2 linked regions of the Homo sapiens genome follow. The protein of the gene in region 1 purifies or fractionates together with the protein of each later gene. This does not show direct contact. Each region holds a gene or a part of one and is shown in the gene's direction. Other genes may lie near its edges.

Region 1 (5,336 bases):
ATTCTGTCAATTTACTTCGTTCTCCACCCCACATTTATTGAACAGCAAACTATGAAAGTAATGTGTCCCATAACTGGCCTTCAGAAGAATTACAACTGCTGTTATCTCTGAACCTTCCAGAAGTTTGTGCATCAGTTTTAAAAAAATGATGAAATCCCTGAAGATAGCTGTGTCCTACATTTGGAAAGATACAAAAACTGACCATTCTGGTCAACCAGTTTTGGTTGCTGGTGCTTGAGATAGAGCCACACAATGGTCTCAGTGGATTTATGGAGAAAAATAGATACAGAAAGTTACTTCTAAATAAGACAAAAAAATCTTTTTCTTGAGCAGTGACAGGTAAAGAGGTTGGTTTGGTTAATCTTGAGTTGTGTTTCCCTCCATTAAGACAGTTTTATGGTGGGGATGGTAGTGGTGATGAACTTGTTTGAAATTTGTCCACTTACAGTAATGTTTATGGTAGCTTCACAGACAACTTCATTCTCACAGGCCTTAGAATTACTATAAAACTAATAGAATGGATGAGGAACAAAGGACCTGAGTAATTAGATGCTTAGATAATTGTTCTGTGTTTTCATAACTGTGGTGAAAAAGAGTGGTGCTAGAAGCACTTAAACATTCTATGTACGGGAAAACTGCCTGAATTTGTATTGGGATTTTTGAGCACCATTCACTGTTTAAAAACTGATATACCATAGGTCATATTTATTTTAAAGAGAAATAGTAGGCAAACTTATCTTTTCAAGATAGATATAAAGCTTAGTTAACCTTATCAAAATTACAAAACTTAAAGCATGTGAAAGATTGAAAATATTAATACATAGGTTTAAATATTGGTCATTATTTTAGATGTCTTTCAAAGTAGATTCTCTCTTAAATGTTAAACTGAACAAACCTTGAACATGATGTAGAGTTTGTGCTGAAGGTTAAGTTTCCTGGCGTGGTGGATATTTTATAATATGGAAAACAAAACCTTCTTATTGTAAGACATTAAAAGAAATTTAGTCAAAACTAGGAGATATGATTCTACCACTCAGAATATACCACTATCAGAATTTTGTATCTTTCCAGTTATCTGCTCATCTCTTTTCTCCGATGCTTATGTGTGTTCCCTCTCCCTTAAAAAATCAGATTTTTTTGTAATCTGCTTTTTCACTCAACAATATTGTAGATCCGTGTTATAACTTACTCCTTACGTGTAGGCAAGATGAATTCTGACCACCCCAAGGTGGCCATCCTTGTCCCTGTGATTCCAGATCTCCCAGAACTAGAGGTCTAGCTTCAGGGAAAACCCAGATTTTCTTGGCTTAGCCCACCTGACAGCTAATCACTGGAAATGGGGTGGGCTGGTAGAGTCCTTTGGTCAGGTTTTGTGTCAAGAGAGGGAGGAGGAAAGATGGGAGGGAGGTAGCAAAACTGGTCTCAATGGAACTATGTAAGTTAATATAGAATGGCAAAGGGATGTTTCTTCCAAGGAAAGAATTCTAAGGAAGGAAGGAAAGTGGAGGGGAAGGCAGCAGTTCTCAAAGTTTTGGGGTCAGGACTCCTTTACACTCTTGAAAATATATTCAGCACTTAAGGGCTTTGGTTTATGTAAGTTACGTCTATTGGTATTTATCACTACAAGTTAAATCAGAAATATTTAAAACATTAACTCTTTAAAAACTCATCACATATTATTATAAATGTGCTTTTACGAAACAAAATTTTCTAAGCCAAAAAATAGAATAGTAGCACAGTCTTAAATTTTTTGCAAATTTCATTGATGTTTGCTCTGTCATTTGCTTTTGCATTTAATTTGTTGTATGCTATTTGCTTGAAATAATGTAAACAAAATCCAACCTTATACAGATACCTGGTTGGAAAAATTGTGAATATTTTAATGGCCATTTTAGATAATCCTGGATATTCTTCTTTTTTTTTTTTTTGAGATGGGGGTTCACTGTGTTGCCCAGGCTGGAGTGCAGTGGTGTGATCACAGCTCACTGCACCCTCAGTCTCCTGGGACTCAGGTGTAGGCCATCTTACTGGCTAATTTTTTGTATTTTTTTGTAGAGACAGGGTTTTGCCATGTTGCCTAGGCTTCTTTTTTGATGCTCTATCAAAACTTGGTCTTTCTTGAACTTTGGATCTTTTACCCTTGTATGATATTATAACATCATGCATTGGTCATTTAGAAAATAGTGGTTCACCGAGATCTTCTAAATGTTGATACATTTGATTTTACAGTATCAAAATACATTCATCAATATTGCCATCAATGTTATCAGGATATTCTTGGAAAACGGTGGTGGATACAAGTTTTCAAAAATTCTAATTTTTTGTTCAAAAACTTGCATTTTATTATTAGCAGTTTTATTATTGAAATTTATTATGGCCTGTCTGTTGTTTTCCTTGAAATGACAGAATCTCATTTTTTGAGGAAAATGACTGCCAAAAACCCAAGTTGAAATAACATCGTCAGTTATCCTTTCAAGTAAAAATGGTATTCCATTTAAGTGGTTAATTCACTTCATGACTTAGTCACACAAGGGTTTTTTCTCAGGCAGTCTGTAGGAATGCTCATGTATACTTCCCGTTTCATCACTTGAAATATTAAAAAGACATATTCAAGGATTCAGATGTAGTAAAATTTTCACTGCTTCATCATAGACATTCTTTTTATTTTTGAGACAGGGCCTTGTTCTGTCACCCAGGCTGGAGTGCAGTAGCGTGATCACAGCTCAGTGGAGACTCGACCTTCTGGGCTCAATCAATCCTTCTGCCTCAGCCTCCCTAGTAGCTGGGACTACAGGCGTGCAACCACCATGCTTAGCTAATTTTTTTATTTTTTTTTGTAGAGATGGGGTTTCACCCTGTTGGCCAGGCTGGTCTTGAACTCCTGGGCTCAAGTGATCCTCCTGCCTCGGCCTCCCAAAGTGCTGGGATTACAGGCATGAGCCACCATTCCCAGCCTTATCGTAGACATTCTTAAATGAAACTGACCTTTTGTTGCCCTTCCTTTTTAAGCCTTTCCTGTGCATAGTGAAGAATACCATGACTACTAGTAGTTTGGTGTTACCGCCTTTATTTGTGCTAAAGTGCCAGCGTTTTTACCCACCATTGTATCTGCACCCTTACAGCATATGTCAACATGTTAGTATTCTTGTAAAAATAGTTTGGACCTGGGGGTCTGAGGTCCCCACTTTGGGAACCATTGAAATAGGTACTTAGATCTACAGTGTATCATATCTTTTCATCTACAAGATTAAAAACATGATTTCAGTTAATTGTTTTTGTAATTTTCTTAATATGGTTTTGAGGGGTTTCAGTCCAGAGTGAAGACATGTATGTTTCTTGGCTTATGCTGAAGTTTACTAGACAAATACTAACCTAATAATGAGATCCTAAGTGTAGTTGCAGTTTCTTTAGCCTAAGGGAAAAGAAACCTAAAAACTAAAACAGTAAAAATGGTCCAGATGGTGTATTCCCAATGTGTGCTGAAGAATTTGAAGAAGAAAATGCAGTACTCAATAAGTGGTGTTAAGAACAGGATTAATTCTGGAGAGTTTCTCATTTAGCCTGTAAAGAGATTTGGGGCACAGTAAGAGTTAGAGGAATGAAAATAGTAAATAACCCATTATTGACCAGGTATACTATTAATGATGTCCTCCATCAATACAACTTATTCTTAAAAGAACATTTGGTAAAATGCTTTAAAAATATTCAGTTTCTGTGGCTTCAGCTATAAATCAGATTATAGTTCTCAAAGCAGTGTTTCCTAAAATCGTTTCTGTGAAATTGTTTTCCATGACTTGAACCTAGTTGTTCTGAAGCTAATATACGATAATAATGGCTTTTCCCCAATTTATAATAGAAAATCATACAAAGTAACAGAGTAAATGTCTGTTAGTGGGTGAAAGCACATAATGCTTAGTTCATTAGCTTTTTAAAGAAATCACATGTAATTGTGTTTTAAAAAAGATATGGGCCTGGCTTAGTGGCTCACGCCTGTAATCCCAGCACTTTGGGAGGCTGAGGTGGGCTGATCACGAGATCAGGAGTTCAAGACCAGCCTGGCCAGCATGGTGAAACCCCGTCTCTAATAAAAATACAAAAAATTAGCTTGGCGTGGTGGCATGTGCTTGTTATCCCAGCTACTCGGGAGGCTGAGGCAGGAGAATCGCTTGAACCTAGGAGGCGGAGGTTGCAGTGAGCCGAGATTGTGCCATGCACTCCGCCTGGGCCACAGAGCAAGACTCTGTCTCGAGGAAAAAAAGAAAAAAAAATTATATATATATATATATGTATGTATGTATGTATGTGTGTATATATATGTAGTAATGGCATTTCTTGGTAGTACTTGGTTTGTGTGATAGATTAAAACATTAGAATTTTATGGTATTTGAATTACTTTTCTATTGCTCTGTAACAAATTTATCAGCTTAAAGCAACAAACATTATCTCACCATTTCTGTGGGTCAGGATTTTGTGCAATTTACCTTGGGTTCACTGGCTTGGCCTCTCACCAGGCAGCGAAGTTGTTGGTGGCAGCTGTGATCATCCTAAGGCAGGATAGGGAGAGAATCAGTCTCCAAGCTCACTTATGTAGATGTTGGCAGGATTCATCTCACAGGCTGTGGGACTGGGCCTCCGTTTCTGGATGGCTGTTGGTCTGAGGCCTTTTATAATACCTCGCCATGTAGGTCTCTCCATAGGGCACCTCATCACATGGCAACTGGTTTCCATCAGAGGGAGCAATGGAAAGAGCAGGAGAAGGATGGGCAAGGCAGACATCATAGTCTCTTTGTAGCCTAATCTCAGAAGTGATGTTATTACTTTTGCTGTATTCTCTTTGTTAGAAGTGAGTCACTAGGTCCAGGGGCGGGAATTTTACAAGGGTGTGAATGCCAGGAGGTGATGGTGATCGGGGCCATTTTAGAGGCTGCCTACCAGTGTTGAAGAAAATCATTGACTTCTATGAGCTGTAGCAACAGACAGTGCTATGCAAGGAGAATGGTTGTCTCAAAAGTCCAGCTCCTCACAAGGTTTTTAATATGTTGCCTTTTCCCCCCATACATTTTGTTTAAATCCATGGTCATCTTGCCGTTTAGTGGTGTGGTTTAATTGCATATTTGGGTTAGTCTGTATGTAAATGTTTAACATGTGTCTCTGTGTTAAACAGGAATCCTATCCATCTTCTTCACCGATATGGTTTGTGGATTCTGAAGACCCAAATCTGACATCAGTTCTGGAACGTCTAGAAGATACTAAGAACAACAATTTGGTAAGAAAATAAGCCAAGCTATTTTCTCTTTTCCTCATGAACATTACATATAGAAATTAAATGTTAAGAG
Region 2 (4,764 bases), on another chromosome or scaffold:
CTTTTGCCACTAATTGTCGAGAGGGCTTGCTAATCAGTGTTTATTCTTCCTGCCTGCAACTGGAAACAGCCCTTGCCTATTCCTGTACAGTGTGATGATACTAAACCAGCTAGGGTAGAAGCACTTGCTTTCTCTCAGCAAGGCATGTGCTGCATAGCCTCTTTGAAAGACAGAAGAATAAATTACAAAGATAAATTAAGCAGGATCTTTGATTTGAACTCATAACCTGGTAGGGGAGCCAGATACATTAATGAATGGTAAAATATCATAGTAGAGGTTTGTAGAAAAGACATGGCAGCTCCAGCAAGAGAGCAGTACCTGCCTGGGTTTGTTGGAGATGGTATTAGGAGGCAGTATTTGAGCAGCAGTAGAAGGGCACGCAGGCCACATGGCTGTGTAACCATGCCTTCAGAACTCCTAAAACAAGAGACCTTGGAGAGTCCTTGGCAGCATCCTCCTGCTGTCTATCATCTTGGAAGGCCCACTTGATGAATTTGGATTATCCAGTTTTACTGGCATTGCTAGAAAATCTACTTCTGTTCTTGCAGATCTGGCTGAGAGAGAGAAGCCTTGTATTACTTGTCTATTTACATAGGAATGTATGGACTGTAGAAGCTTCAGGTTTGGAGATTGGAACATAGAAGGAAGGGCTTCCTTTATGAGCACCAAGACAACTCAGCTTCTTTCATTCCATTGTCTTCTGTCCGCAAGAAGAGCTTAAGTTTGCTCTAAAGATTTTATTGATGAATTCTAAATAGCAACAGGATCCTCAGTGAAAAAAGACTCATGCAAAGTCCCAGAGCCCAGAGAAAGTATGGTAGTTTATCACCTATGTTAGTGCAAAGGAAAAGGATTATCACTACTTTTCATCACATTTTGAAGATCTGACTTATTAAGTACTTTGCAGTCTCTCCCGTTTGAATCTGAAGTGTAGTGGTAGCAGCTAGCACTTGTCATATTTCAGGTTTGGTGTAGTTTATTTTTAACCTCCTGCTGGTCTGGAGGGCTACAAAGGTCACACCACATAGAACAAACCCTATAGCTTGAGTTGCCACTCATCTTACACCCACTTCTCTTCTGGTTGCTTTTGCTTTGTCTTGGCAGGAGTTCAAAGAAGGACGCAGAGCCAGCCACACAGCCCCACAGGTCCTCTTTAGCCACAGGGAACCTCCTCTGGAGCTGAAAGACACAGACGCCGCTGTGGGTGACAACATTGGCTACATTACCTTTGGTGAGCAGGGTGCACTTGCTGCTTTTGTGCCGCTTTAATGAGTTCACACAGCAGAATACCTAAATCTGCACAGAACCTTGGTTAACATTTTAAGGTAGGCAAACGCAGGCATACCAACTTGTTCCTGTTGCCATTGCAGTGACTAAAGGAGGGATGTCACAGGGTATTAATTACAGAGCAGGCCATATGCTATTTTTGTACAGTAATCCTTTCCTTTTTTTCCCCATTTTTCTTAAATCTTAAAAATAAGACTGAATTCTGATATCAAGAGTTAAGGTCCCTTCAATAGTTCAGCTGGTAGAGCAGAGGACTATAGCTACTTCCTCAGTAGGAGACGTCCTTAGGTTGCTGGTTCGATTCCAGCTTGAAGGAGACAAGTACAGTTTTGGCTGGGCACGGTGGTTCATGGCTGTAATCACAGCACTTTGGGAGGTTAAGGCAGGTGGATCACGAGGTCAGGAGATCAAGATCATCCTGGCCAATGTGGTGAAACTCTGTCTCTACTAAAATACAAAAAAAAATTAGCTGGGCATGGTGGCGCACGTCTGTAGTCCCAGGTACTCCAGAGGCTGAGGCAGGAGAATTGCTTGAACCCGGGAGGTGGAGGTTGTAATGAGCTGAGATCGTGCCACTGGACTCCAGCCTGGGCAACAGAACAAGACTCTTGTCTCCAAAAAAAAAAAAAAAGAGTTGAGGCTGGGTGCGGTGTCTCACGCCTGTAATCCTAGCACTGTGGGAGGCCAACATGGGCAGATCACCTGAGGTCAGGAGTTCGAGACCAGCCTGACCAACATGGTGAAACACTCCGTCTCTACCAAAAAAATAACAAAGAAATTAGCTGGGCGTGGTGGTGTGCGCCTGTAATCCCAGCTACTCGGGAGGCTGAGGCACAAGAATCCCTTGGACCCAGGAGGCGGAGGTTGCAGTGAGCTGAGATCACACCATTGCACTCCAGCCTGGATGACAGAGTGAGACCTTGTCTCAAAAAGAAAAAAGAAAAGAGTAAAGGATAGGCGGGGCACAGTGGCTCATACCTGTAATCCCAGCACTTTGGGAGTCCGAGGTTGGTGGGTCACTTGGGTCCAGGAGTTTGGGACCAGCCTGGATAACATGGTGCAGGCTCATCTCTACAAAAAGCAAGGGGCCAGGCACAGTGGCTCACACCTGTAATCCCAGCACTTTAAGAGGCCAAGGCGAGCAGATCACTTGAGGTCAGAAGTTCGAGACCAACCTGGCCAACATGGTGAAACCACACCTCTACTAAAAATACAAAAATTAGTTGGACATGGTGACATGTGCCTATAGTCTATAGTCCCAGCTACTCGGGCAAGCGAGGCATGGCAATTGCTTAAACCCAGAAAGTGGAGGTTGCAGCAAGCCGAGATCATCCTGCTGCGCTCCAGCCTGGGAGACTGTCTCAAAAAAAAAGATAACTAGGCATGGTGGTGCATGACTGTAGTCATAGCTACTTGAGAGGCTGAGGTGAGAGGATCACTTGAACCCAGGAGGTAGAGGCTGCAGTGAGCTGTGATGGCACCACTACACTCCAGCCTGGGTGGCAGAGTGAGACCCTATCTCACCAAAAAAAGGAGTTAAGAAGAGAACCACCTAAGCAGCTAGATGGGGGTTCTCTGTCATTTGGCAATTCTTGGTTTTTTGCTTATTAAGCCCAAGCTCCAGCCGTGATCCACTTACTCCACTTTTTCGCGGAATAAATTCAGGTCTTCCTTCAGTTGCTCCAGCCTCATGCACTGGCTGATTATGATAGCTTACAGTTTGGAATTAATAAGCTTGTTCACACTGCACCCAATGCCACTGGAATGTCTCCTTTGTGAAATGTAATTTAATTCACCTCAGTGGTAAAGGTGAACCTGTTTATTGGTGATGAATCTGTTGATTTACCAAATTTCATTAAATCTAAACTATACACTTTTTTCTTTTTTCTTTCTCTCTGTCACCCAGGCTGGAGTGCAGTGGTGTGATCTCGGCTCACTGCAACCTCTGCTTCCCAGGCTCAAACAATTCTCGTGCCTCAGCTTCCCAGGTAGCTGGGACCACAGGCGTGTGCCACCACACCCGGCTAATTTTTGTATTTTCAGTAGAAACAGGGTTTCCAGCTGGGCACGGTGGCTCACGCCTGTAATCCCAGCACTTTGGGAGGCCGAGGCAAGTGGATCACGATGTCAGGAGATCGAGACCATCCTGGCTAACACAGTGAAACCCCATCTCTACAAAAAATACAAAAACTTAGCTGGGCGTGGTGGTGGGTGCCTGTAGTCCCAGCTACCCTGAAGGCTGAGGCAGGAGAATGGCGTGAACCTGGGAGGCGGAGCTTGCAATAGGCCAAGATCACGCGACTGCACTCCAGCCTGGGCGACAGAACAAGACTCCGTCTCAAAAAAAATTAAAAAAAAAAAAAAGAAACAGGGTTTCCATGTTGGCCAGGCTGATCTCAACTCCTGGCCTCAAGCAATCCACTCACTTCAGCCTCCCAAAGTGCTGGGATTACAGGCGTGTGCCACTGCGCCCAGCCAGCTATACCATTTTTTTCAAGTTTTTGTCTTTGAAGCTGGGATGCATCTTACAATTCATAGCATGTCACACTTTAATTGGCAGCATGTTTCTCTTGTGGTACATAAAATTATGGCAGACTTACAGTCATAAGCACCTTAGATTCTTTGAAGTATAGTTGTCTTCTGTTGTGGTGTTCATTTACTTTCAGGCCAGGGCACATTGACACAGAAATTCCACACTTCCTTAGGAGGCATTCCTTTTCATTTCAACGAAAACTTCAGACAACTGACGGGGTTTTGCAGATAGTGAGTAGAGGAGGTGCAGCAGGTAAAAACGATTCCAGAAAACCAGGGCAAGAGGGGCATGCAGGCCTGCTGTAGTGCAAAGGACTTTGTGATGAGCACACAGGTCTTTTTTTGAGATGGAGTCTTGCTCTGTCACTCAGGCTGGAGTGCAGTGGCACCGTCTTGGCTCACTGCAACCTCCACCCCCCGGGTTTAAGCGATTCTCCTGCCTCAGCCTCCTAAGTAGCTGAGATTACAGGCACACGCCATCACATGTGGCTAATTTTTATATTTTTAGTAGAGATGGGGTTTCACCATGTTGGCCAGGCTGGTCTCAAAACTCCTGATCTCAGATGATCAGCCTGCGTCAGCCTCCCAAAGTGCTGGGATTACAGGCGTGAGCCATCGCGCCCAGCCTCACACAGGTCTTTAGGTGGCTGGTGTCACAGGGTGGACTTCAGTCAGGCCCATTCAGAGCAGCTCCTCCTGCCTGGCCTATCATGAGGGTTCAGGTCCTTACACCTTATTGTCTGTTTTCACAGTGAGAATATGGGAAATTCTCTGGCATCTGTTTTCTGGGAAGGTTTACTCTATTTCAGCACCAAGGACCTAAGACAGGCAGCTGCATTTCCTAATCCTGATTCCTTAAAGTAAACTGTTACAGCCAGTTAGTGTGATCCTGGAGTGTGTCCAGCTGCAGAGGCAAGAGCTAGTACCTGTGTGGCAGACCGGAAA

The links. Proteins that work in one complex are often made in the same cells at the same time.
Region 2: the proteins of UBE2Q2 (region 1) and ARPC2 purify together in Homo sapiens (affinity purification with mass spectrometry, with the first as the bait; one study listed by BioGRID). This does not show direct contact.

Annotation. Positions count from the first base shown.
Region 1 is NC_000015.10:75,849,222-75,854,557, forward strand, and holds part of UBE2Q2 (ubiquitin-conjugating enzyme E2 Q2), read left to right. Parts: intron 1-5,164; coding exon 5,165-5,266; intron 5,267-5,336.
Region 2 is NC_000002.12:218,244,316-218,249,079, forward strand, and holds part of ARPC2 (actin-related protein 2/3 complex subunit 2), read left to right. Parts: intron 1-1,104; coding exon 1,105-1,231; intron 1,232-1,510; exon of another isoform or gene 1,511-1,603; intron 1,604-4,764. UniProt on the Homo sapiens protein: Actin-binding component of the Arp2/3 complex, a multiprotein complex that mediates actin polymerization upon stimulation by nucleation-promoting factor (NPF).